3 linked regions of the Homo sapiens genome follow. The protein of the gene in region 2 purifies or fractionates together with the protein of the main gene of each other region. This does not show direct contact. Each region holds a gene or a part of one and is shown on either strand. Other genes may lie near its edges.

The links. Proteins that work in one complex are often made in the same cells at the same time.
Region 1: the proteins of MTA2 (region 2) and CHD3 purify together in Homo sapiens (affinity purification with mass spectrometry; 8 studies listed by BioGRID and IntAct, with this or other methods). This does not show direct contact.
Region 3: the proteins of MTA2 (region 2) and KPNA2 purify together in Homo sapiens (affinity purification with mass spectrometry; 4 studies listed by BioGRID and IntAct, with this or other methods). This does not show direct contact.

What each region holds. Positions count from the first base shown.
Region 1 is NC_000017.11:7,891,372-7,899,654, reverse strand, and holds part of CHD3 (chromodomain-helicase-DNA-binding protein 3), read right to left. Parts: intron 6,370-8,283; coding exon 6,086-6,369; intron 5,851-6,085; coding exon 5,720-5,850; intron 5,541-5,719; coding exon 5,390-5,540; intron 5,241-5,389; coding exon 5,047-5,240; intron 4,739-5,046; coding exon 4,505-4,738; intron 4,317-4,504; coding exon 4,113-4,316; intron 2,573-4,112; coding exon 2,361-2,572; intron 1,685-2,360; coding exon 1,553-1,684; intron 1,160-1,552; coding exon 1,060-1,159; intron 645-1,059; coding exon 453-644; intron 313-452; coding exon 112-312; intron 1-111.
Region 2 is NC_000011.10:62,591,999-62,599,890, forward strand, and holds the end of MTA2 (metastasis-associated protein MTA2), read right to left. Parts: intron 6,642-7,892; coding exon 6,524-6,641; intron 6,393-6,523; coding exon 6,329-6,392; intron 6,144-6,328; coding exon 6,026-6,143; intron 5,715-6,025; coding exon 5,612-5,714; intron 5,418-5,611; coding exon 5,318-5,417; intron 4,828-5,317; coding exon 4,639-4,827; intron 4,535-4,638; coding exon 4,460-4,534; intron 4,340-4,459; coding exon 4,281-4,339; intron 4,110-4,280; coding exon 4,012-4,109; intron 3,894-4,011; coding exon 3,754-3,893; intron 3,495-3,753; coding exon 3,266-3,494; intron 3,073-3,265; coding exon 2,983-3,072; intron 2,637-2,982; coding exon 2,518-2,636; intron 2,410-2,517; coding exon 2,261-2,409; intron 2,043-2,260; coding exon 1,877-2,042; 3' UTR 1,216-1,876; downstream 1-1,215. UniProt on the Homo sapiens protein: May function as a transcriptional coregulator. Acts as a component of the histone deacetylase NuRD complex which participates in the remodeling of chromatin.
Region 3 is NC_000017.11:68,038,318-68,046,600, forward strand, and holds part of KPNA2 (importin subunit alpha-1), read left to right. Parts: intron 1-2,360; coding exon 2,361-2,449; intron 2,450-3,767; coding exon 3,768-4,036; intron 4,037-4,587; coding exon 4,588-4,682; intron 4,683-4,782; coding exon 4,783-5,046; intron 5,047-5,520; coding exon 5,521-5,754; intron 5,755-6,003; coding exon 6,004-6,186; intron 6,187-7,454; coding exon 7,455-7,604; intron 7,605-8,186; coding exon 8,187-8,279; 3' UTR 8,280-8,283.

The DNA.
Region 1 (8,283 bases), on a different chromosome or scaffold from region 2:
GTGGAGGAAGAGGAGAAAGGTGAGGAGGGGAATAGAGAAACTGAATTCCTGGCTGAGAAAAAGAAGTGACAGCTTTGAGGGTCTCAGAGGATATGAGGTAGAGGGTCTTACCTTCATCTTAAAAGCTTTCTTGCCCCCTTTGATGGCATTGTCCTCAAAGGAGAATTCATTCTCACGAATGATGGCCCGGCTGTCCTTGTCACCCGTGTATGTCACCACATAGAATTTGGGTGCCCACATCTGGAACTCCCGCTCCCAGTTAATGATGGTAGAGAGTGGGGCACTCACCAGGAAGGGACCTTTTGTGTGGCCCTGGGAGTCAAGAATGGGGGCAGCATAAGTCTAGGCTAGAGGCCGTATACCCTAGTCCTCTGCCAGCTACACCCCTTTATCTTCCCCCTCCCCACTTCCCCAGTCCAGGCGGTCCCCTTCAAGGTCCTAGAATCCAGCACCTCCTTGTAGAGTGAGTAGAGGAAGACGATGGTTTGTATGGTCTTGCCTAGCCCCATCTCATCAGCTAGAATGGTGTCAGTGCCCTGGGCCCAGGAGAAGCGTAGCCAGTTCAGCCCTTCCAACTGATACATGTGCAGGGTGCCTCCAGTGGCTGTGATAAACCGTGGCTGAGTCTCATATTTCACGGTAGGCTATAGAGACAAGAAGTCAGAAAGCTCAAGGAAATAGTCGGCGGCTCCTCCAGTCTTAGTCTCTTCCTCCCTGGCATGGATACCAAGTTGGATTACAATTCCCTCTACTATGGCCTGAGTTTACAAAAGTTCTCACATCTAGTCTTCAGCCCCTCCCCCTCATTCCTTAAGACAATATCCAGCAGCACCATGGGGAAGGGCCAGCTGGTGACAGAGCCACCAGTGGGCTATCTCTAGTGGCTCCTGCCCTTTCAGGCCAAAATTCTTAGCCACTCTTGGGGCAAGACTGGATGCTGAAGGAAGAGCTACTGTTCACAGAGGTTACTGAATCTCTGGGAAGTTCCATCAGTAGCCCTTGGAAAATCTTCGATCACCATCACTCCAGAAACAAGAAATGACAACTGAGAGGACTCACATCATTAGTGGGAGAACTGGGAGGCCCATCACCCTGTAGCTCCTTCTTCTTCTTCTTATACTTGCGGGGCTGGGCAGGGTCTTCCCCCATAATTAGTTCTCTGGAAAAAGAGTGGGTCTGAATGAGGCCTCATCCTTGGGAGTCCTACGCTTTCTTTTCTGAACCCATTCCAGACCTACTTCCCACTGTCCATGACCTAGATTTTCCCATATTTCCTTTTTCCCAGGCTCTTTACCCTTGCCCTTTGGATTTCACCTCAAGAGCCAGCCCTCCCCACTCTTGAACATCCTCTTCTCCACTACTCAGCCAGATCTTGTTTCTGTTCCTTACACTACCTCTTTAGCAAGCCTATCTCAAACAACCCAGCTCAGGTGGCCATTGCCCTGAACTCCAGGTTGAATCAGGCCCTACTGTACCCTCATTTTATGCTGGAGTTTTGGCTTTCATGCCCTCATCGTCAGAATCCCTTGAATCCACAAGCTCATTCCCTCACCGGTGTCTCCAGTAGCTTTGCTTATGTTCTTCGTATTCAGGGATATTCATTTCATCTTCCTCCCACGTGGACTGGTCATATGGTAAGTCCCTCCATTTTACTAGATAGTGGTAATTCCCCTTTTTATCCACACTGTGGGGCAGGAGGCCATGGGGAGGAGCAGGAGGAAAATATTGCACAGATCACAAACAGAAAGAAGGCCTGAGAAACGCAATTATCAGCAAACACACAAAATTTGTCACCCAACCGTCAACAGTGAGCTGCTGGAAGGGAGATTGGAATAGTTGACCTAGCAGCCTAACCTTCTCAGGATGGTATCCTAAAAATCAGCTATCACAAAACATTCCTGGAGATCCCTCCTTATCATTTGTTCACCTAATCACTAAGTATTTTCCTCATGGAACTCAGAGTCTCGTGGGGAAGGCAGCATTGAAATAACTAAATACATACCATTAAGTTTAGGCAGTAATAAGTACTATGAAGAAGAAACATTCAAAACACTGGTCTGGATGAATTATGTCTCTCATGTTTTGCTTTCATGCCCTCATCCCCAGACTCATGTGCTATGTCTTATGCCACTGGAGATGACAGGAGGCAAAGGACAAAAGAGGCACTGCCTGGCCGGATTTTCCTCCTGTTTTCTCCCGTTCCCCTGGAGGAAACAAGGCCAGAAAGGCTGGAGCTACAGCAGAGGTTATCAAGGTTAGATCAATTACCTGGTTAATCAGCAAATACTAACATGGGGCCATCACCATGGTAAGAATAATGTCATATACCAGGTCTGACTTCCCAGGGACCGAGGATTCACCTGTGGTTGATGATGCGGTGGACGGTCATCCACTCTGGCTTGATGCCAAAACGATAGTACTTCTCCTCCATCTCAGCATAGTGCGGGTCTTTCACTTTACGCTTGTCGCTCTTCCCATCATCCTCGCCGGAGCCATAGTCCAGGGGTGGGGGCTCATCCATGTCATTCTTCCGCTGGTAGTTTCGATACATAACCAAATGGAAGATTTCCAGCTAGCAGGGCACAGAAAAAAGGGAAAGAGATAGTCCTGACACTCACAGAGGACAACAAGGAACCGGGAAGAGGCCGGCAGGAGGAATGGGACAGGGAAAGGGAGCTATGAAAAAGGATGGATTGGCCCAGGCACGGTGGCTCATGCCTGTAATCCCAGTGCTTTAGGAGGCTCAGGCGGGTGGATCACCTGAGGTCAGGAGTTCAAGACCAGCCTGGCCAACATGGCGAAACCCCGTCTCTACTAAAAATACAGAAATTAGCCAGGTGTGGTGGCGCACGCCTGTAATCCCAGATACTCAGGAGGCTGAGGCAGGAGAATCGCTTGAATGCATGAGGCGGAGGTTGCAGCGAGCCAAGATCACACCACTGCACTCCAGCCGGGGCAATAAGAGAATAACAGGCGCGTCCCAGCACTTTGGGAGGCAGAGGCAGGTGGATCACCTGAGGTTGGGAGTTCGAGACCAGCCTGATCAACATGGAGAAACCCCGTCTCTACTAAAAATACAAAATTAGCCAAGCGTGGTGGCGCATGCCTGTAATCCCAGCTACTTGAGTGGCTGAGGCAGGAGAATCGCTTGAACCCAGGAGGCAGAGGTTGCAGTAAGCCAAGATCGTGCCACTGCACTCCAGCCTAGGCAACAAGAGCGAAACTCCATCTAAAAAAAAAAAAAAATAGAAAAAAAAAGAAAAAGGATGGATTAGAGATAAATGAGTCAAAGCCAAGACGGAGAATAAATAAAATGAAACAGATGCAACAGTTTCAGAAGACAAGGCCTGGGTGGGGCTCTTACAAGCAAGAGATAGGGAATGGGATTAGAAACATTGAGAATTTTTTTTTTTTTTTTTTTTTTTTTGAGATAGAGTGTCGCTCTGTCGCCCAGGCTGAAGTGCAGGGACACGATCTTGGCTCACTGCAAGCTCCGCCTCCCGGGTTCACGCCATTCTCCTGTCTCAGCCTCCTGAGTAGCTGGGACTACAGGTGCCTGCCACCACGCCCAGCTAATTTTTTTGTATTTTTAGTAGAGATGGGGTTTCACCATGTTAGCCAGGATAGTCTCGATCTCCTGACCTCAGGTGATCCGCCCACCTCGGCCTCCCAAAGTACTGGGATTACAGGCGTGAGCCACCACACCCAGCCGAGAATTTTTTTTTAAACAGAGATGGGGTTTCACTATGTTGCCCAGGCTGGTCTCAAGCAATCCTCCTGCCTTGGCCTCCCAAAGTGCTAGGATTATAGGTGTGAGCCACCATGCCCAGCCAGGAATATTATAAAACATGGAAAAAGACAGATAAGGAAGGACATGAAGTTAGGAAAGGCTATGCTATATCTGAGGGAAGGAAGCTAACGGAGACTGAGAGAAAGAGGACTGTAGACCAAAAGAACCACATATGGAAACTAAGCAAGTAGGGTATGAAGGCCACAGGCCTGAAATGAGAGAAAACAAAGAGTATGGGAACCCAACAAACAGAGGAGTAAGAGAGGGAGAGGATGGCAGGAAATGAGGTCATGGGGGAGAGGGAAAGAAAAGGTCCTAGTACCTGAAGCTCCTTGGCCCAGGAGCAGTGCCAGTAGGATAGTCCTACCCACTTGACAAAGAACTCTCGCTCTGATCTGCCTTGAAGAGGACGGGGGGGTGGGACATCTGGATTTCCATCTGCCTGTTGAGGGGCTGGCACTGCTACAGGTGGCTCCCCCCACCGCCAATGTAGGATCTTCTGCACTCGACCCTTCAGCACGGGGCACTTTGGGATGGACACGTACAAGGAGGAGGAAAGAAAGAGGCAGAAAGAACCCATTGTTAGATGAGAAGATAGGGGTCCCACAAGGGTGGGGGAGTGCAGAGAAATGAAAAGCTGGACATGTGGGCCCCAGGGATGGGGGAAGGGATCAGGCCTGACAGTAAATACAGAGGGGAGATGTTTCCACTCACTGTGCATCGGGGACACAGCCATTCACCATTGGGAATGTCAGGCAGGGGAGGGTTTAGACAATGAATGTGGTAGGAGGAGATGCACGCGTCACAGCACAGGAGCTCCCCGCCGTCCTTGCATACGCGGCAGTACTCCATGTGATCATCCTCCTCCTCCTTCTCCCCTTCTTCCTCTCCCTCCTCTTCGTATTCTTCTTCTTCCTCCTTGGCCTCCCACTGGACCCCCTCCTTCTCCTAGGGGGCCAAGGATAGACACACAGACAGATGGAAGAAATTAAGGAATGAAACTGGAAGATACAGGCAAAGACAGGACACCTGAATCCTAGAAGTGCAGAGAAGACTGGTGGGAACTAAGGAAAAGGACACTCCAGTTTCAGAAATGTTGATTGTGGGAGAAAGGAATACATTAGGATCCTAGACACTCGGACATCTGTTACTAAGAAGTCCAGCCATCTGGGGGCAGGAAGAGGGTAAGTGAAACCAAGGGGGAAAGAGATGGGTGGGTTCCTCAGGGCCATCAGATGCTGGCATTAGGTACTCACACAGTGAGGGCAGCTCCATTTGCCCTCTGGAGCCCGGTCAAGCTCAGGATCAAGGCAGACGAGGTGGTAGGCACGAGGGCAGGTGTCACACAGAATAATTTCCCCACCCTGCTGGCACACCTCACAGTAATCCTGGTGATCCGTCTCGTAGCCATCAACCTCCTCCTCCCCGGCCACTGCAGGACAGCCCAGGACTGTCATATACCCCGGTGGAGGGATAAGGAAGCAGGGCAGGGGGAGATGGAGAGAGAGAGGGAGAAGGGTTGAAGAGAGAAGTCAAAATTGAAAATAAGAATGAGAGGACGGCCCACTGACAGGATCACACACAGTCAACACTCCTTACCCTTCTTCTTCTTCCTTCCTGGCCGGCCTCTCTTTAGTTTCTTGGTGCGGACAGGGCCATCAGGCCGGCCTGAGGCACTGTGGACACTGCCACTGTCCAGGTCTGATTCCTCAGCCTCTGGTTCAGGACCTTCGTCGCTCTGAAAAACATACTGCCCATAGCCCCGTGGCCGTCAGTGAGGCAGACTTCATTCTACGCCCTCCCCAGGCCTTTGGCTTCCTGTTCCGCCATCCCTCACGGATCCCTGTCTCTGGATCCTTGGCCCTCACGGATCCCTGTCTCTGGATCCTTGGCCCCCAGGTGTTTAGTAGACAGGGACGGGTCACTCACCGAGCCTCCTTTCTTCCTCTTGCCACCCAGAAGCCCTAGTTTTATTTTGAGTGGTGCCATTTTCTTTCCCCGAAGCTTCTTGCGTCCATCAGGCACTCGGGGGCTCTTACTCCGCCTCTTATGGCCTGGACCTGAATGAGGAGTCGGGGTGAGAAGAGGAAAAAGGAGAGGTCATGACATCCTGGAATTATGGAGGTCACAGGGGCCTCTGGATTCCTCTGTGGGCTGTGGTTTCACTAAGCCCCACTTCCTGGAAAGCATCTCTCCTCCAGCAATCAGGGCTGGGAAGGCGAGAGTTCCAGACTCTAATGTGAAGACATGCAGTTTGGAAGGTGAGATGACAGTTGTTGGAAGAGAGTTCCCTACCTTTGCCCTCTTTGGTTTTGGCTCTTCGGATGGGTGGGGGCTGGATATCAGCAGCAGGGGGTGGTGGAAGGGCGGGGGGTCCGGAGGGTGCTATGGGGGTGGCCGACGAGACAGCAGCTGACACCTGCTCAGCTACAGCTGCTGCTGCTGCTGCCGCTGCCGCCGCCACAGCAGCTGCTGACCCCTTGAAGGGGTTGTTGGCACTGAACTCTCTCCATTTGGCCCCAAGGATGGTCATCATCTTAGACATTGGGATCTTAGGATTCTTCTTAGCAATTAGGGGCCTGTAAATATAGAAGCAGAAAACTCGGACCCTTCACAGATGGTCTGGGAACACTGCCATCTCCCCTCATCAATTAAATCTATGTACATGCTAGGATTCCTGGGTGGTGAGAATATGTCCTATTAGGAAAAACAGCCATTTAAAAAAATAAATAAAAAGAAGTTTAAAAAAAGCGGGGAAAGAACAGGTTTAAAAAAGCATTAAAAAAGAAATACAGGCCAGGCACGGTGGCTCATGCCTGTAATTCCAGGCTGAAGCAGGAGGATTGCTTGAGCCCAGGGCTATGAGATAAGCCTGGGCAACAAAGTGAGATCCTGTCTCTACAAAAAATTAAAATAAAAAAAAATAATTAGCTGGGTGTGGCAGCACCTGAGGCTGAGGCAGGAGGGTGGCTTGAGCCCAGGAGTTGGAGGATATAGTGAGCTATGATCACACCACTGCAGTGCAGCCTGGGTGACAGAATGAGACCCTGTCTTTAAAAAAAGGGAAATAGGCTGGGCGCAGTGGCTCACGCCTGTAATCCCAGTACTTTGGGAGGCCAAGGTGGGAGGATCACGAGGTCAAGAGATGGAGACCATCCTGGCCAACATGGCGAAACCCCGTCTCTACTAAAAATACAAAAATTAGCTGGGTGTAGTGGTGCGCACCTGTAGTCTCAGCTACTCGGGAGGCTGAGGCAGAAAAATTGCTTGAACCTGGGAGGCAGAGGTTGCAGTGAGCCAAGATTGCGCCACTACACTCCAGCCTGGCGACAGAGTGAGATTCCATCTCAAAAAAAAAAAAAAAAAAAGGGGAAATAAAAAACAGCGAAATAAAACTTAAAAGCATAAAAGGTTAAAATAAAATCAACAAAAATGCTTTACTTTTGTATACTACTTTACAGTTCATAAAACCCTTTCACATACATTCCACCTTATCTTGTCCTCACAATAATACTCTTGAGTTGCTATGATTCTCTGCATTTTACTAGTAAGTTCCATGGGCCCTGAAGATGGGCTTCCGTAGGACGGAGTGTGAAAGAGTCAGACCATGCTGGTTCTGCTCTGGGGTGGGGTGCTCAACTCTTGTGCGGACACGGGTGATCCATGGTGCTGAGAAAAGCCCCAAGTTCAGCAGTAAGGTAGGTGAGACAACGTTACTAATGACAGTCACCAGTTACTGAATGCTCCCTAGGAGCCAGGCACTGACGGTACTGTGCTTTCCATTCATTATCCCACCAAACCCACACAGATTCCTATGAGGTATATATTATTATTCCCCGTTTATAGAAGAGGAAATTGAGGATTGAAGAAGTTCAGTCACTTGCCCAAAATGTAACCAGATGTGAACCTCAGCAGCTGCCTCCAGAGCACTGAACTGATATGTTAAAGTGCCTTCTCCCCAAAACAAAATACATCGGCACTATTTTTTCTTTTTTTTTTTTTGAGACGGAGTTTCGCTTGTTGCCCAGGCTAGAGCATAGCAGTGGTGTGATCTCGGCTCACTACAACCTTTGCCTCCCGGGTTCAAGCGATTCTCCTGCCTTAGCCTCCCGAGTAGCTGGGATTACAGGCATGTGCCACCACGCCCAGCTAATTTTTTTGTATTTAGTAGAGACGGGGTTTCACCATGTTGGATGGGCTGGTCCTGAACTCCTGACCTCAGGCGATCCACCTGCCTTGGCCTCCCAAAGTGCTTGGATTACAGGCATGAGCCACTGCACCTGGCCCATCTCTGCTATTTTCTACTCTACTATTCTCTACTTTTCTTCAGGAGCCACTGAAGCTCAGGTCCCACTGCCAGCAGTGGACCCTCCATTATTACCAGGGCCTAAGGAAGGGGCACAGGACCTGCTAAGTGAGCTAAGGAAGTTCAGGAACACTGATGGTATCTCTCAGGTCCAGTCTAGAGAGAAGTCACAGAGCAGAAGATGGAG
Region 2 (7,892 bases):
TCCGCCCCCTGTCCTCCCGCAAAACGGGTGTTCTGCGACGGCTTCTAGCCCTGGTTGGGGAGCTCTGCCACCACCGGGCACCTTCCGGACTCCACGAGGTCCTGGAGCCAGGCCCATTCCTTCCGCAGTAGTGGGCTGCGTGGTGTACGCCGGAGGCGCCAGAGCTACTGGCGCACCTCAGAGCAGTGCGACAAGACAAAACCGAGTGCCAGTAACTGAGTTTAGACACTGGAGGGGGCGAATGCTGTCAACCCCCTCCTGGTATAATTGTCAGTTCATCCCAACGCCGCCGAGGTGTAGGCTCAGGACAGGGAGGGACTACGGGGAGCTGGGGATGCCCTAGGGACAGGGACCATAACGAGGTGGAGAGAACTATCAGATGGGCTCAGCAGCTTGTGCTGTGGTTATCAGCCCACAGCTTTGAATGGCGCAAAGAGCAGTGGACCTAAGGCAGACACCAAGGTCTTTGACCTTGAACAAGTCACAACTGTTGAGGCCGTTTCCCATCTCTAAAGGAAGTGCCCAAGGAGCACACAGCAGGCTGAACTTCTTGTTCTCTATCCTAAGGTGTTCCTTCTAATGGGCCCAGCTCAGGCATCTAATCTCAGTGTCCCAAACCTTTAAGGCAGGAAACAGTGCTACAGTGGATCGGGATATCATCGAGACTGGCCTTGAGGATCCTGAAGCAGCAGGCTGTACACATACACCCAGAGGTGCTAGGGTGGTTCAGTGGTAGAATTCTCGTCTGCCAAATACACCACACAGCTAGGTGAGGGGATCCTCCTATAACCCCACCACCACCCCCAAGGGGGTATACATGTTACCCTGGCTGCTAGCAACTTCCAGAATTCCTTAAACAAAAGGGAGAGGGGAGTAAGAGGTGGGAAACAGAGGAAGAAACACCCCCATTCCCCTTTCCTATGGAGGCCACCAGTCATCCAGAAAGCTCATCTCAACTCCTTTGAATGAATCTGGGCCAAGATGGTTCTTGAGCTCCAGCACCACTGGGAGCTGGGGAGCAGTTTGGGTCCCACAAGAAGCCTAGCTGGAGCAAGCCGCCTGGGTCCAGGCTGCCTATCTCATAAAGCTGTTCCCAGGGCAAGAACCATCTGTACCTCCTTTGTTGTCCTTTGTCCTTTATTTTCCCTCTCAAAGACACCCCCAACACACACACAACACACACCCATGGCAAAGAACAGCTGAGCCAGGAGAAGCTGAAGAAAACAGCTTTTTATTTGTTACTATAAGAACCAATTACAGAATCCGAGGTTAAAAAAACGGACAAAAGATCTTTATTTCTGAGAACTGGCGTACAAAAGGCAGAGGGGGAGGGGAGGGAAGGAAAGAGCGAGCGTGGCCTGGGGTTGATGCCAGCTTAGGGGCCTCAAACTCCAATTAGGAAAGTCCGGACACCGGACAGAAAGAGAAACCCCCAATTAGGAAAAAAAAAAAAAAAAAAAAAAAAAAAGACATGGCAGTGCACGCCCCCCTCCCCCAACCAGGTACCACCACCTGTTATCTGTTTACTCTTCCCCTCCCCATCCCCTTTCACAAAGGGAGGCAAAATTTTTAAAAAATTAAAAAACCCTCCCCCCAAAACTGTCCAAGACATCTGTGGGTCCTACCCCCCAAAACAGGCTAGGTTCCCACATGGGCCAAGTTCCTGCAGTCTGTCCTCCATCGGCAAGCATGGAGGCATGAGACAAGTCTCGAGGTGGTAACACCAGAGGGCGCCCAACCCCTCCAGGGACACACACTCACTTGCTCTCTTCCTTAATTCACTCCTCACTCCCTTCGACACGAAAGGGAAGGGAGGTTTGGGTGCCCTGGGCATCCACCCTCTACCTCTCAGCCCACCTCCCTTCCCCACAGGTGCTCAGTCCTCCAGGACAATAGGCTCATTGGTGCTGGCAGGATGTGAGGGTGCAGGTAGAGGGACAGGGGGCCGCACTGCAATCAGCGTTGGCTTCACCTTCAGGGGCAAGTTGGGTCGGCGAGCAGCTCGCCGCATTTCCAGATGGGTCAGAGCCTTCCGTAGGGCCCTGGCCAGAAAGAGCAAGTGGGAAACAGAAAAGGCTTAGAGAACATTAAGACCTCCAGGTGAAGCCCCACACTGCAATTATGCCTTCTGGCCCATTCTTTTCTGGCATCCCCACCCTGCATCCACAACTTTCCTGGAGCTCTTGCTCTGATACTCCTACTCCCCACACTCACCAGCCTGGACTGTCCCTCTCAGCCCCTCCCATGGTAGACGCCTTACCTGGTATCCTTTGTGGCCACAAACACCACAGGATTGGGGGCATCAGCTGGGTTTAGTTTCTGACGCTTGGCTGCTGGCTGTGAGCTTGAACGAATCCCTGAAGCCAGAGGCCTTCCATTGGCAGAGAAAGGAACCCCTGCCCCTGCCATCTGGAAAAGGGGTAGGATGGCACAATGAGGGAAGGGACCCTCTCAGACTCCTATGAGAGACAAAAGCCCACCCAACTCAATCTGGCCCACCCCTTTCTGTCAACTCACAGTCTCATAGGCCCGTTTCACCATAATGCCCCCCAGTCCCCGGTTCTGGGACAGCTGGTTTCTGTTGATCGGTGTCTTGGTACCCCGAGGTGTTTTTGGTTTCAGGGGTGCCTGGGCCACTGGAAAAAAACAGAAAACTTTCGCACCTTTTCTTCCCACGCAGTTCCCCTTTGTTACTTCCATCTCTCTTCCCTGGACCAGCAGTTTACCTGGGCATCCCCAAAAGTAGCAATGGGGGAATGTTCTGGCAAGCTATCACTAGTATTTCAAATATCAGTATGACCTTATCAAATCAGTACAGTAATACTGAATAGTTTACAAAAAAAATTATTAAACAACAAAAGTACAGTTTGTTAGACTAAATCTCTGAGGACACTATGAGGAAGAAAAAAAGCAAGGGGAGAGATGTCAGACAGGGAAAGGACTGGGAGCCTGATGCCAACCTCACTGGTCCCCATCCCATACCCAGATCTTTGACGATAGTTGCCAGGGGCAGCCGCACCAGAGGGTGAATCTTCAATGGAGTCTTGGCGGCCTTAGGAAGTCGAATGGAGCCTGGAGAACAAAGAAGAAAGCTTCTGAAGGGCTTCACCATTCAGGTCTCCTCTAAGGCCAGAAGCCAACTCTAATCTTAAAAAAATTATCTGTGGCCTACTATCCCTCCTGTTATTAGACATCCAGAGAAACAACGGTCTCTGGGCAGAGCAATCCGAAACCCACCACCAGTCCCACCACTCCCTGCCCTTACACTCTGCTTTGATGGCATTGGCATTGATAGGAGCATAAGGCCGTCGGGCGGCCCTCCTTGGCTGTAATAGGTCCCTGCACATGCGTCTGGCAAGACGGGTCAGCTTTGTGGTCTGAAGCAGGAAAGTTTGTCTGTTCTTAGCCAGTAGCTTGGCCCTGTTGGCGCTGGTTGTGTAAGGAGAGAGACTTTGAGCTTCAGGTCTGGATAAATGACCCCTTGAGTGTGGCTCCTAGAAGAAGAGCATAGGAAAGAGAGAGAGCAGAAATCAGCACTGAGGCTCCCTTCTTTCTTCCATTCCCTGCAGGGGACAATTTATTCCTGTCTAATCTCTTTACTGACCTCTTGGCCTATGTGTCTCCCCAACCAGCATCAAGCACCCCGTCCATCAAACCATCACCATATAAAGAGTTGAATATTCTGGCCTTCACCTAAGCTCACCATCAATATGCTTACTGCTCTCCCCTGCTTTTCTTCCCACTGATCCTTACCGTGGTGCCCCGAGTGGCCCCCTCAAGCTGAGTTGGGGTCTTCAGTCCCCCATACTTCTTCCAGTAGATCCAACAGGAAGCACAGAGGCGGCACTGCATGTTAGGTGGGCCCCAGGCATACCACTGAGCAGACTGTGTGGCTGTAGAGTACGGAGAGGAGGGGGACAGGGAAGAAGCATACTACCTAAGCCCCTCAGATTCTTGAGCCACAGCAGGCCTTCCACCCATCCCCACCATCCCAGTGCCCCCGTAACTCACTGTGGCAACTCTCACAAGTCAGGCCCTTCTGAAATCCAGCCCCATTCATGCCAGGTTTTGAACCCACAGAAATGATCTGGTTAGGGTTTGGCTTAGTGCTAACGGGGAAGGCGAGGAGAAGGGAAAAAAACAAGAAACTGGTCAAGGAAAAGAATCAATTTCCACTCTCAGTGTGCCCCTACCTCCTGCCCACCCCCAATCACTGAGGAAGGCACAAGTTAGGGGAAGGGAAGGAAAACACTCTGGTCTCCCCTACCCACCACACTTACTAGGTGGGAATGTAGACCTGTTTCAGTTTGCTGTCTGCTTCAGCAGCTTTCAACCTTTTCTGTAAGAAGGTAAAAAGAAAGAGAAGGATCAGAGCCTCATAGCAGGGAGAATGTCATCAACTTCAAAGGCAGAGGTCAGCAGGTAGCCTATGGTCCACCCTCCCCAGCCCAGATAATACCTGCTGAATATACCGGTCTGTGGTTTTCCACATGTAATAAAACTGGACTATGCTGGCAAGTGACTTCCAGGGTAGCTAAGGGGGGCAGAGGGAGGAAGAATGAGCTGGCATCTGGCCCCAGGTCCTGGTTCCCTCACCTGTCATCTCTCCCACTTCTCCTCCTAGTGCCATCCACTTACAAAATCCTGGCGAATATCATTGAAGTCCTTCCCATACTTCTCTAGGGCCTCCTCAAATAGCATGGCCTCTGAGGCTGACCATTCCTCCATCTCATCCCGACACAGCACCGGGCCTCCCTGGGGTACCAGGGTCGACATGGCCTTAGCCAGGTCGTAGCCGTTCCTTTGCAAGGTATCCATGGCGTGAAACTATGGGGAAGATGGAGAGCAACTGAGGACCTGAAACTTTTGGCACCACTCCCTTCCTGCTCCTTAAAACACTCCCACTCCCGGCCGGGCGCGGTGGCTCACACCCATAATCCCAGCACTTTGGGAAGCGGAGGCGGGCAGATCACGAGGTCAGGAGATCGAGATCATCCTGGCTAAAACGGTGAAACCCCGTCTCTACTAAAAATACAAAAAATTAGCCAGGCGTGGTGGCGGGTGCCTGTAGTCCCAGCTATTCGGGAGGCTGAGGCAGGAGAGTGGTGTGAACCCGGGAGGCGGAGCTTGCAGTGAGCTGAGATTGCGCCACTGCACTCCAGCCTGGGCGACAGAGCAAGACTCCTCTCAAAACAAAACAAAACAAACAAAAAAAAAACACTCCCACTCCCTCAGAGATACCCTCCTCTTCTGTTCCCAGGCTCTGCAAGTCCCCAGAAAACCCAGCCTGCCCAACTACCCACCAACTTCTGCTCACCAGAGTGATATCTCGGGAGGCAGCAGCTGCACTCATGTGCAAGCTTGGCTGCCGAATGGAGCTGCTACAATCTAGGGCTCTTGCAAAGGTTCCCACAGCTCTAAGGGAGAAATTGAGAAGTCAAAAGCGAAAGAAAAGTCAAAAGCCCAAGTGGGCTGGGAAATTAAGCCAAAGGAGAAAGAAGGAAAACATCCATGGCAATGAAAGAAATAAAGTCCATCTCTAAGAACCATGGGACTCAGAACAATGTCCACACCTCCCCCAGCCCATCTTCCCTATCCACCCACCCCTCACCGGGCCACCACAAGAAACTGGTCGATCTGCCGGTCTGTGAGAGGGTTGTCTGGGTCCCAGACCTTCATCTCCATCTTCTGCTGGTTCCGATTATCAGATTCTCCTGGGGAAAAGAACAATGGCATCAACAGGGAGAGGGCAGGGGGGAACAGTTGGTGTCTTTTCATTCACAATAGCACCTCCTCCTTCTCTTCTTCTGCTTGGATTCTATCAACTCTCCGACTTCTCTTCCCAACTGTTCCCATTTTCCCTTTTCAGGTTCCTACAGGCCCATTCTGTCAGGGTCATGGCAGAGAGCCCTGCAGACAGTGCACTGCACAACCCCAGGTGACGCCATTCACAGAGACTATAATGTTAAAGTGCCCCTTGGAATTAGACAACCTGGTAGCCGTACAGTCTTGTCCTGTTGCTTACCCTCTACTAGGCGATCTGGGATCTCAGCTTGGTATTTGCAACCAACTCTAATCTCGCCCTGATCAGCGAGAAGTGTCTTCTGCACGGGGTCAAACACCAGTGAGTAAAAAAAGCAGTCCTGGAATTGGGGAGAGACAAGGTAAGCAAGGCAGCAATCCACATAGGCGGCGGGGAGGGAGGTGTATCTGAGTTTCCATGACCGGCAGTCTGGCAACCCTGTACCTCATCATTGTGCTCCTTTCCCCCTCTCTTTTGCGGGCAATACCCATTCCCCTCGCTCTTCTCTCAACATCTCTTTCTCACCTCCTTTTCCAGGTACTGGCTCAAGATATCTGTCTCATTCAAGAGGGTCACACTGCATTTCCCCCTATAGGAGAGAGATTGGAAAACCCCGGTGAGCCCCACTCTCCCTCCCCACAGCATCTCTCAATACCACCTCCTTCTCTCCATCTTCTACGTAAGTGCACGCAGGCTATGCTGGCCCCAGTTGTCCTGTACCGTATGTGGGTGGCTGGTAATGATTCAAATTGCCGAGAAAGAAAAAGTTCCCGGTGCTTCAGTTGATGGCGCTGCTGCTCAGACACCCCTGGCTGCTTTGATTCCTCTTCAAACTCCCCTGGGAGATTAAAGAGGAAGAAACCAAGTCAGAAATGGATCCAGCAAAACACCACCCTGGAAACTCTAACTCAGGGAAAATATTTCCTATCTTGGCTGTTTTTTTCTCACATTTCCCAGGCGTCTGCCTTCTATACCCTTATCCCACCAGCTTTCCTTCTTAGCTCTATGCCCCATCATAGATGCTCCCAACTCTATCAGTAATGCTTTTAGAGAAGAACTGCTGAGAGTACGAAGAATGCTCTAGAAATACATCGCTACCCAGCTGCCAGTACTCAGACACCAAAGTCCACAACGGGCCAGCAAGAACATCACACTTGTCTCTTGCTTGCTAAACCAGCCTGAGGTCCAGGAACTCAAGATGAAAAAATATCACACAAGACTGTGTTTACCAGTTCTTTTCAATTTCAGGAGACTCTTTGCTCTAAAACATCACATGCAGCCCTAACTATCCCTCATTTTCTACTTGGCTAATAATAGTTCCTGGGGTTTCCAAGGACAACACCTCTCAAGCCAGTGCCAACACCTTCCTCCCCAAGGAGCTGCAGCTTGCCCTGAAACCTAGCGGAAGGGGTTAACCTGGCTAGGCGCCAACCAAAGTGGGAGGGAGCAGAAGAACCTCAGCCCCAGGCTCATTGGTGTATTGTTCCCAACCTCAGGGAGAAGGGGGGGGTTGTGCAGTAGGCTCCACCCCTCGCTTGTGTGCTCCGGAAACCCTGTGCTGAGGCAAGGGGGACCACACCCCCAACACCCCTTCTGATTGGACAAGGCCAAGGTCAGCCCCTGCCAGATGGGGCTGGAAACCCTAAAGGGCCAAGGAACTTGGTAAGCTGGGCTCCTCTTTAACCCCTTCTCACCCAGAGCAGTCTGAAAAAGGAAAATAATTTAGAAAGGTGGAACAAAAGGAAGGAAAAAGAAAACCAAAGCAGGAAAGGAAAAAGAAGCTAAGGAAAATATGTTTTTTAAAAAAAGAAGATGAGACCTTAAAGAGAATGAAGATAGGGCAAAATGAAAAGGGAAAGATGTAAAATGGAGGGGGGCGGGCGGGGAAATGGGCGAGGTGAGAAATTAAAAAGCGCAAGAAAACTTCCAGCCATCTTCTAACTTCCAGGTACTCTCATCACCTTGTGATTACAAAATAAGCCTGCTTCTCTGTTACGCAGGCTTCTCAGTACAATGTCTTCCTCTTCACGTTGACCTTCAGTCATCACCTACTGTCTCAATGTACCCCAAACTGCCCCCCTTTAGAAAA
Region 3 (8,283 bases), on a different chromosome or scaffold from region 2:
GGCTAGTCTTGAACTCATGACCTCGTGATATGCCTGCCTTGGTCTCCAGAAGTGCTGGGATTACAAGCGTGAGCCACCAGGCCCTTCCCGTTTTTGGTTTATTTCTGCCTTTTTTGGTATTCTCTATGTTTTTGTATTTGTCACCAGCTTTGTTCAGGACTTTCCTTCTGAAATATTTACAGTAGCCTCCTAATTTATCATATCCTTCTTTATGCCATATACTATTTTCCTGAAATTTTTCCTGAAGTACTGCTTTAGACCTGTGTTTTCGCTCCTTAAAATCCATACTCCAAATTGCTTGAACCTGGGAGGTGGAGGTTGCAGTGAGCCAAGATCATGCCATTGCACTCCAGCCTGTGCAACAAGAGTGAAACTCCGTCTCAAGGAAAAAAATAAAAATAAAATAAATCCATACTCCAGCTGGGCATGGTGGTTCATGCCTGTAATTCCAACACTTTGGGAAGCTGAAATGGGAGGATCACTGGAGGCCAGGAGTTTGAGCCCAGCCTAGGCAACATAGGAAGACCTCGTCTCTATAAAAAGTAAAGTTAGCTGGGTGTGGTGGCGCCGGCCTTTAGTCCTAGGTATTCAGGGGGCTGAGACAGAAGAATCACTTGAGCCCGGGATTTTGAGGCTGCAGTGAGCTGTGATTGCACCACTGCACCCCATGCTGGGTGACAGTGAGACCCTGTCTCTAAGAAATCCCTACTCTATGAAGGCCTTCCATAAAGTAGACTTAACTTAGATTTTCAAATTTATCTTTCATCTGGGCCCTTTCCTACATGTTTTTCTCACAATATGCTTCCTTTTTTTTTTGTTTTGAGACAAAACCTTGGTTTGTTGCCCAGGCTGGAGTGCAGTGGTACGATCTTGGCTGACTGCAGCCTCCGTCTCCTGGGTTCAAGTGACTCTCCTGCCTCAGCCTCCCAAGTAGCTGGGATCACAGGGGATCACCACGATGTCTAGCTAATTTTTGCATTTTTAGTAGACACGGGGATTCACCGTGTTTCCCAGTCTGGTCTCGAACTCCTGACCTCAGGTGATCCACCCGCCTCGGCCTCCCAAAGTGCTGGGATTACAGGCGCGAGCCACTTCGCCCAGCCAAACATAAACCATTTATATTTGCAGCAACACTTAACCGTGGAAATATGTAGATTATAAAATTAGATATGAAAATCCTCGGCCGGGTGTGGTGGCTCACACCTGTAATCCCATTACTTTGGGAGGCCGAGGCAGGTGGATCACCTGAGGTCGGGAGTTTGAGACCAGCCTGACCAACATGGAGAAACTCCATCTCTACTAAAAATACAAAATTAGCTGGGCATCGTGGCGCATGCCTGTAATCCCAGCTACTCAGGAGGCTGTGGCAGGAGAATCGCTTGAACCCGGGAGGTGGAGGCGGTGGTGAGCCGAGATCACGCCATTGCACTCCAGCCTGGGCAAGAAGAGCAAAACTCTGTCTCCAAAAAAAAAAGTCGGGCATGGTAGCTCATGCCTGTAATTCCAGCACTTTGGGAGGCTGAGGCAGGTGGATCACCTGAGGTTGGCAGTTCGAGACCAGCCTGACCAACATGGAGAAACCCCGTCTCTACTAAAAATACAAAAAAAAAAAATTAGCCAGGCATGGTGGCGCATGCCTATAATCTCAGGTACTTGGGAGGCTGAGGCAGGAGAATCGCTTGAACCCAGGAGGCGGAGGTGGTGGTGAGCCAAGATCATGCCACTGCACTCCAGCCTGGGGATTGAGTGAAACTCCGTCTCAAAAAAAAAAAGAAAAGAAAATCCTCAGAACGTTGCCTATGACTTCATGTCTTTCTCCCTCAAAGTATATCTGAATGCAAGTGATTGAGACTAACGTAGAAATAATCTTCAGTCTGCTCTGATTCTTGATTTTTGAGACAAGGTCTTGTATGGCGACAGGCAAACACCACCATGCCTGGATATTTTTTTTTTTTTTTTTTTTTTGTTGGGAGGTCTCACTGTGTTGCTCAGGCTGGTCTCACCTGAGCTCAAGCCATCCTCCCTCCTGAGCCTCCCAAAGTGCTAGGCTTACAGGTGTGAGCCACCATGCCTGTCCTTCTCGTTCATTTTTTAAAATTGTTCAAAGCTGCCTTTTTTAGCGACAAAACACTTGGATACTCCATAACTTGAGACTCCAGTGAGTCCATGACAACAAGTTTGGAAACTGTTCTACATATAAAATAATGAATATTTAACAGGCAAAATTAAATGTAGGGCTAAATATTTAGTAGCTGGCTATAAGCCTAACGATGTTTACACTTGCCTTCACAAGTAAGTGTGGATTTTATTGTTTGTATTTAATCTTAATGATAATGTGCAAACTTTCACTTTTCTTCTAGGGCACTGTAAATTGGTCTGTTGATGACATTGTCAAAGGCATAAATAGCAGCAATGTGGAAAATCAGCTCCAAGCTACTCAAGCTGCCAGGTAAGTCTTGTCTGCGATAGCATGGGTAGCCTAAGAAATTTGTGTTTTTAGATTTTTTTTTGGGGGGTGGGGCAGGAAGGGACAGACAGATAGTACAAGGAAAGATTAGGCCAGCCAGCCATAAGCCAAATAGTATTTTTTATTTATTAATTTTTTTGAGAGGGGAGGCCTTGCTATTTTGCCCAGGCTGGCCTGGAATGCCTGGGTTCAAGCAGTCCTCTGACCTCAGCCTCCTGAAGTGCTGGGATCACAGGTGTGTGCCATTGCACCTGCCCATAAAGTTTTTACCAAAGTAATGTTTCAAGTCACTGGCAGGGGAAGGAAGAAATAAATAGTAAGTGGGATTGAGACATGCATTTAGAATGATAGATCCATTTAGGAGATAAGTATAATTTGACCTTTACCTCCCACTATACGTGGATATTTATGATATAATAGAAAGGATTAATAAGTTCTATAGCTTGACAGTGTGCAGAAGAAAAATTTCAATGGTAAATTATCATTAAAAAGTTCTAGGCTGGGTGCTGTGGCTCATTCCTGTAATCCCAGCACTTTGGGAGGCCAAGGGGTCGGTTACTTGAGCCCAGGAGTTTGAGACCAGCCTGGGCAACATGGTGAGAGCCAGTTTCTACAAAAGAAATTATTAGCTGGGTGTGGTGGCACATGCCTGTAATCTCACGTGTTTGGGAGGCTCAGGCACAATAATCACTTGAACCCAGCAGGCGGAGGTTGCAGTGAGCTGAGATCTTGCCACTGCATTCCAGCATGGCGACAGAGCAAGACTCTGTCTCAAAAAATAAATAAATAAAATAACTTGGGTGTGGCGGTGCACACTTGTCGTCCCAGCTACTAAGGAGGCTGAGGTGGGAGGATCACTTGAGCCCAGGAGGTCGAGGCTGCAGTGAGCTGTGATCGTGGCACTGCACTCTAGCCTGAGTGGAGTGAGATCCTATTTCAAAAAAACAAAATGTGCTTAACCACAACTATCAGAACAAATTCAGTGAGAGTATAACCCTGTCAGAATGTGAAAAGTTTTTTTAAAAAGTGACAAGATCTGGAGTAGATTTCTGCAGGGATGGAAAGGAGGGTAATCTACATTAATTTCTGGAAAAATGGTAGTTAATTATACCGCATACATAGCACCATACAAGTAATCTGTTCAGCTTCTCTTAGGTTCCAGAATGTCTCAGCATTTAGTGATTTACTTAAAAGGTTGTCTGAAGTTCTAAACTCTTGAATTGCATTTTATATTGGTTTTTACACAAACTCCTTTTGTTAATCACTGTCAACTTTTATTTCTCTTTTTGTTCCCCTTTAGGAAACTACTTTCCAGAGAAAAACAGCCCCCCATAGACAACATAATCCGGGCTGGTTTGATTCCGAAATTTGTGTCCTTCTTGGGCAGAACTGATTGTAGTCCCATTCAGTTTGAATCTGCTTGGGCACTCACTAACATTGCTTCTGGGACATCAGAACAAACCAAGGCTGTGGTAGATGGAGGTGCCATCCCAGCATTCATTTCTCTGTTGGCATCTCCCCATGCTCACATCAGTGAACAAGCTGTCTGGGCTCTAGGAAACATTGCAGGTACTTGGACTTGAAGTTCTTTTGACTGAATGTATCTAATCGTAATTAGTTGGAAGAAAGGCCTTGTTATAAGTAATAGTGACTTTGTCAAGTTTTGAGCTTGCTTTCAAGCCCTTATTAGGAATGAAAGTGTCGTCTTTACAAAGGCAGCAGAGGGCCATCTAAGTAAGTTTGGGAGTTTTTGCTGGTGCATTCAGTCACTGAAAATTGATGGTGTTGGACAAGGTAATAAAATTAATCTTGCCTCGGCCGGGCATGGTGGCTCACGCCTGTAATCCCAGCACTTTGGGAGGCAGAGGCGGGTGGATCATGAGGTCAGGAGATTGAGACCATCCTGGCTAACACAGTGAAACCCCACCTCTACTAAAAATACAAAAAATTAGCCGGGCGTGGCGGCGGGCGCCTGAGGCTGAGGCAGGAGAATGGCTTGAACCCAGGAGGCGGAGCTTGCAGTGAGCCGAGATCGCGCCACTGCACTCCAGCCTGGGCGACAGAGAGAAACTCCGTCTCAAAAAAAAAAAAAAAAAAATTAATCTTGCCTTTTTTTTCAGGTGATGGCTCAGTGTTCCGAGACTTGGTTATTAAGTACGGTGCAGTTGACCCACTGTTGGCTCTCCTTGCAGTTCCTGATATGTCATCTTTAGCAGTAAGTTACTAACATGAGTAAAGTTACTCACTTCTTCATTCTAATTTCCCCCATCTTCTCAAAAGACAGAACCTCTCATTGCCTATTTTTTTTCCCCCAGTGTGGCTACTTACGTAATCTTACCTGGACACTTTCTAATCTTTGCCGCAACAAGAATCCTGCACCCCCGATAGATGCTGTTGAGCAGATTCTTCCTACCTTAGTTCGGCTCCTGCATCATGATGATCCAGAAGTATTAGCAGATACCTGCTGGGCTATTTCCTACCTTACTGATGGTCCAAATGAACGAATTGGCATGGTGGTGAAAACAGGAGTTGTGCCCCAACTTGTGAAGCTTCTAGGAGCTTCTGAATTGCCAATTGTGGTAAGTTATTTACTTGTAGATTAGGACATAAGTATAAGAAGCATGATCAGGGCTGGGCGTGGTAGTGGTGGCTCACACCTGTGTAATCCCAGCACTTTGGGAGACCAAGGCAGGTGGATCACCTGAGGTCAGGAGTTCGAGACCAGCCTGGCCAACATTGTGAAAGCCCATCTCTACTAAAAATACAAAGAAATTATCTGGACATGGTGGCACGTGTCTGTAATCTCAACTACTCGGGAGGCTAAGGCAGGAGAATTGCTTGAATCTGGGAGGCAGAGGCTGCAGTGACCCGAAATCGTGCCATTATACTCCAGTCTCTCAAAAAAAAAAAAAAAAGCATAATCAGTTGATAGTAATATTGAAATATTGCCTATTTCAGGCCATGATGGGCCTCTTGTTAAAACTTTTAGGGTATAGAATTTCTAAAGTGCTGGGGAAAAAATAACCAGCATCAACATATTTTTTTTTTTTCAGACTCCTGCCCTAAGAGCCATAGGGAATATTGTCACTGGTACAGATGAACAGACTCAGGTTGTGATTGATGCAGGAGCACTCGCCGTCTTTCCCAGCCTGCTCACCAACCCCAAAACTAACATTCAGAAGGAAGCTACGTGGACAATGTCAAACATCACAGCCGGCCGCCAGGACCAGATACAGCAAGTTGTGAATCATGGATTAGTCCCATTCCTTGTCAGTGTTCTCTCTAAGGTAACGAAGTCTTAGGATTTAATCAAGTCATTTTTAGTATTTATAGAAAGCTGTGCTTGATAAGCTTCTTCACGTGCAAGAATCTTGGGTTCTACTAGGAGTCCTTTGCTGAACAATACCCAGTAACCCCTTTTACTTAAGGTTGGATAGAACCTTGGTACTTTCAGTCATTGTTTTTGTGAAAAAGTACTCTTGGAATCTTATTTGTGCAACTGTTCTGAAATAAAACCATTTCCTTATGTTTAATAGGCAGATTTTAAGACACAAAAGGAAGCTGTGTGGGCCGTGACCAACTATACCAGTGGTGGAACAGTTGAACAGATTGTGTACCTTGTTCACTGTGGCATAATAGAACCGTTGATGAACCTCTTAACTGCAAAAGATACCAAGATTATTCTGGTTATCCTGGATGCCATTTCAAATATCTTTCAGGTAAGTCCTATCAAGGTGGCTTTGTTTGAATTTGGACTTGATAATAATCAGTTTACTATTTAGACTTGGGGGAGGGCAGCTGTAAGTTTACTCACTAGTAAGCCACAGAATCAGAAAGCCTGTTTATGTGGCCACCCCTTTGATTAAAAATGAGGCAGGCATTATAAAAGATACAAAAGAGACGACAAGTGGATGGTGTGACCTGAATCGGAGTCAGGCGCTTATGTGGACTCATCACACCTGTTTACTTGGTTGATTTAATTTCCCAATTTCATACCGATTTTTGGTGACATTAAATTTGAATGACTTGGCCAGGCACGGTGGCTCATGCCTGTAATCACAGCACTTTGGAAGTCCGAGGTGGGTGGATCACCTGAGGTCAAGAGTTCGAGACCAGCCTGGCCAACATGGCGAAACCCTGTCTCTGCTAAAAATGCAAGAATTAGCCATGTGTGGTGGTGGGCGCCTATAATCCCAGCTACTCAGAAGGCTGAGGCAGGAGAATCGCTTGAACCCGGGAAGCGGAAGTTGCAGTGAGCCAAGTTTGTGTTATTGCACTCCAGCTTGGGCAAGAGTGAAACTGTCTTAAAAAAAAAAAAAAAAAAAGTTGAGCCTTCAATAATGGATGCTAGCGTATCTGTTACTGTGTATAAATAATTTGTCAGTATGTGGCCAGTATTTCTTCTTCCCCTCATCTAATCCCCTAAGTTATTTTGAAGCAAATCTGTTTTTTTCATCTATAGATATTTATGTATCTCTTTAAGGTTGAAAATTTAAAGGAAAACTAACCTACATACCATTCCATATGTCCAGTAAATCCTTAATACCAACACACATTCTGTTTGGGGACGTTTAGTTTAGCACTCCATAGGCCATCTTTGCCCTTAGACACCTTGACTACACCTTGTGATGACATAGGATGCTTTATGAAACAATACACCCCTGTTCCCATAGCAGACCAGTTGAACTGGAATGTAGTGTTGTTTTAAAAGTTGCCCGCATGATTTTGATACATAGAAAAGGTTGGGAGCTACTACTGATTGTAAGATCTTTGGCTCCAGTTGAAGTAGTGCTAAAAGCAGGTACAGATCCAATCACATTGAGTGTCAACAAAATATAAAATGGACATAAAACTATGATAGGCTTGATGAAGGAATTGTTAGGTGCTTATTTCTGCCTGACGTATCAATATTCAAATTATTGATGTTTTCTTCATTAAAATAAAACCAGAGTATATGCCAGTAAACTTGGATTTTTTTTTTTTTTAGGCTGCTGAGAAACTAGGTGAAACTGAGAAACTTAGTATAATGATTGAAGAATGTGGAGGCTTAGACAAAATTGAAGCTCTACAAAACCATGAAAATGAGTCTGTGTATAAGGCTTCGTTAAGCTTAATTGAGAAGTATTTCTCTGTAGAGGTGAGTAATGGATGGTAATATTAATAACAACTTGGAAACATAAAGTCAAGGCCATAAGCCTTTTTTTCCCTTTTAAAAATAAGTGTCATATCTTTGTTAAATATAGTAAAATATCAGTGTGCATGGGACATAATGTACTTATTTGCCCCTCTAGTTTGGCTTGATGGTAATAAAATCTTTTTAAACTGAGATTTTAAAAGCCACCAGATTAGTTTCAAATGAACAACCTTGAGAATCTTAGAATATCTTGAGGGTAAGTTAACGGGTGTCATTGTAGGAGGTGATAGAGAAGTAGGCCAAACTCATCACCATGCTCTGGGCCTAATACAGTCTTTTCCTATTGAAAAGTGACGGTTGGGGAAGAAAAAAATCTCGGCCTGTTTGTGTTACTGTAGTAGCTAGCATTTATGAATTGGCAAAGTTTCAGAGACCCTCCCTCCTCTATGTCAAATACTATAATATCATACAGGATTAAAGGTGTAATATGCAGATCAAGACCTAGAGATTAAATACAGACTTCAGGTAGGCTGCTGCTTGGAATACTTATATCATTTTTATACTTATTTTTTAATATATTTCCAGGAAGAGGAAGATCAAAACGTTGTACCAGAAACTACCTCTGAAGGCTACACTTTCCAAGTTCAGGATGGGGCTCCTGGGACCTTTAACTTTTAGATCA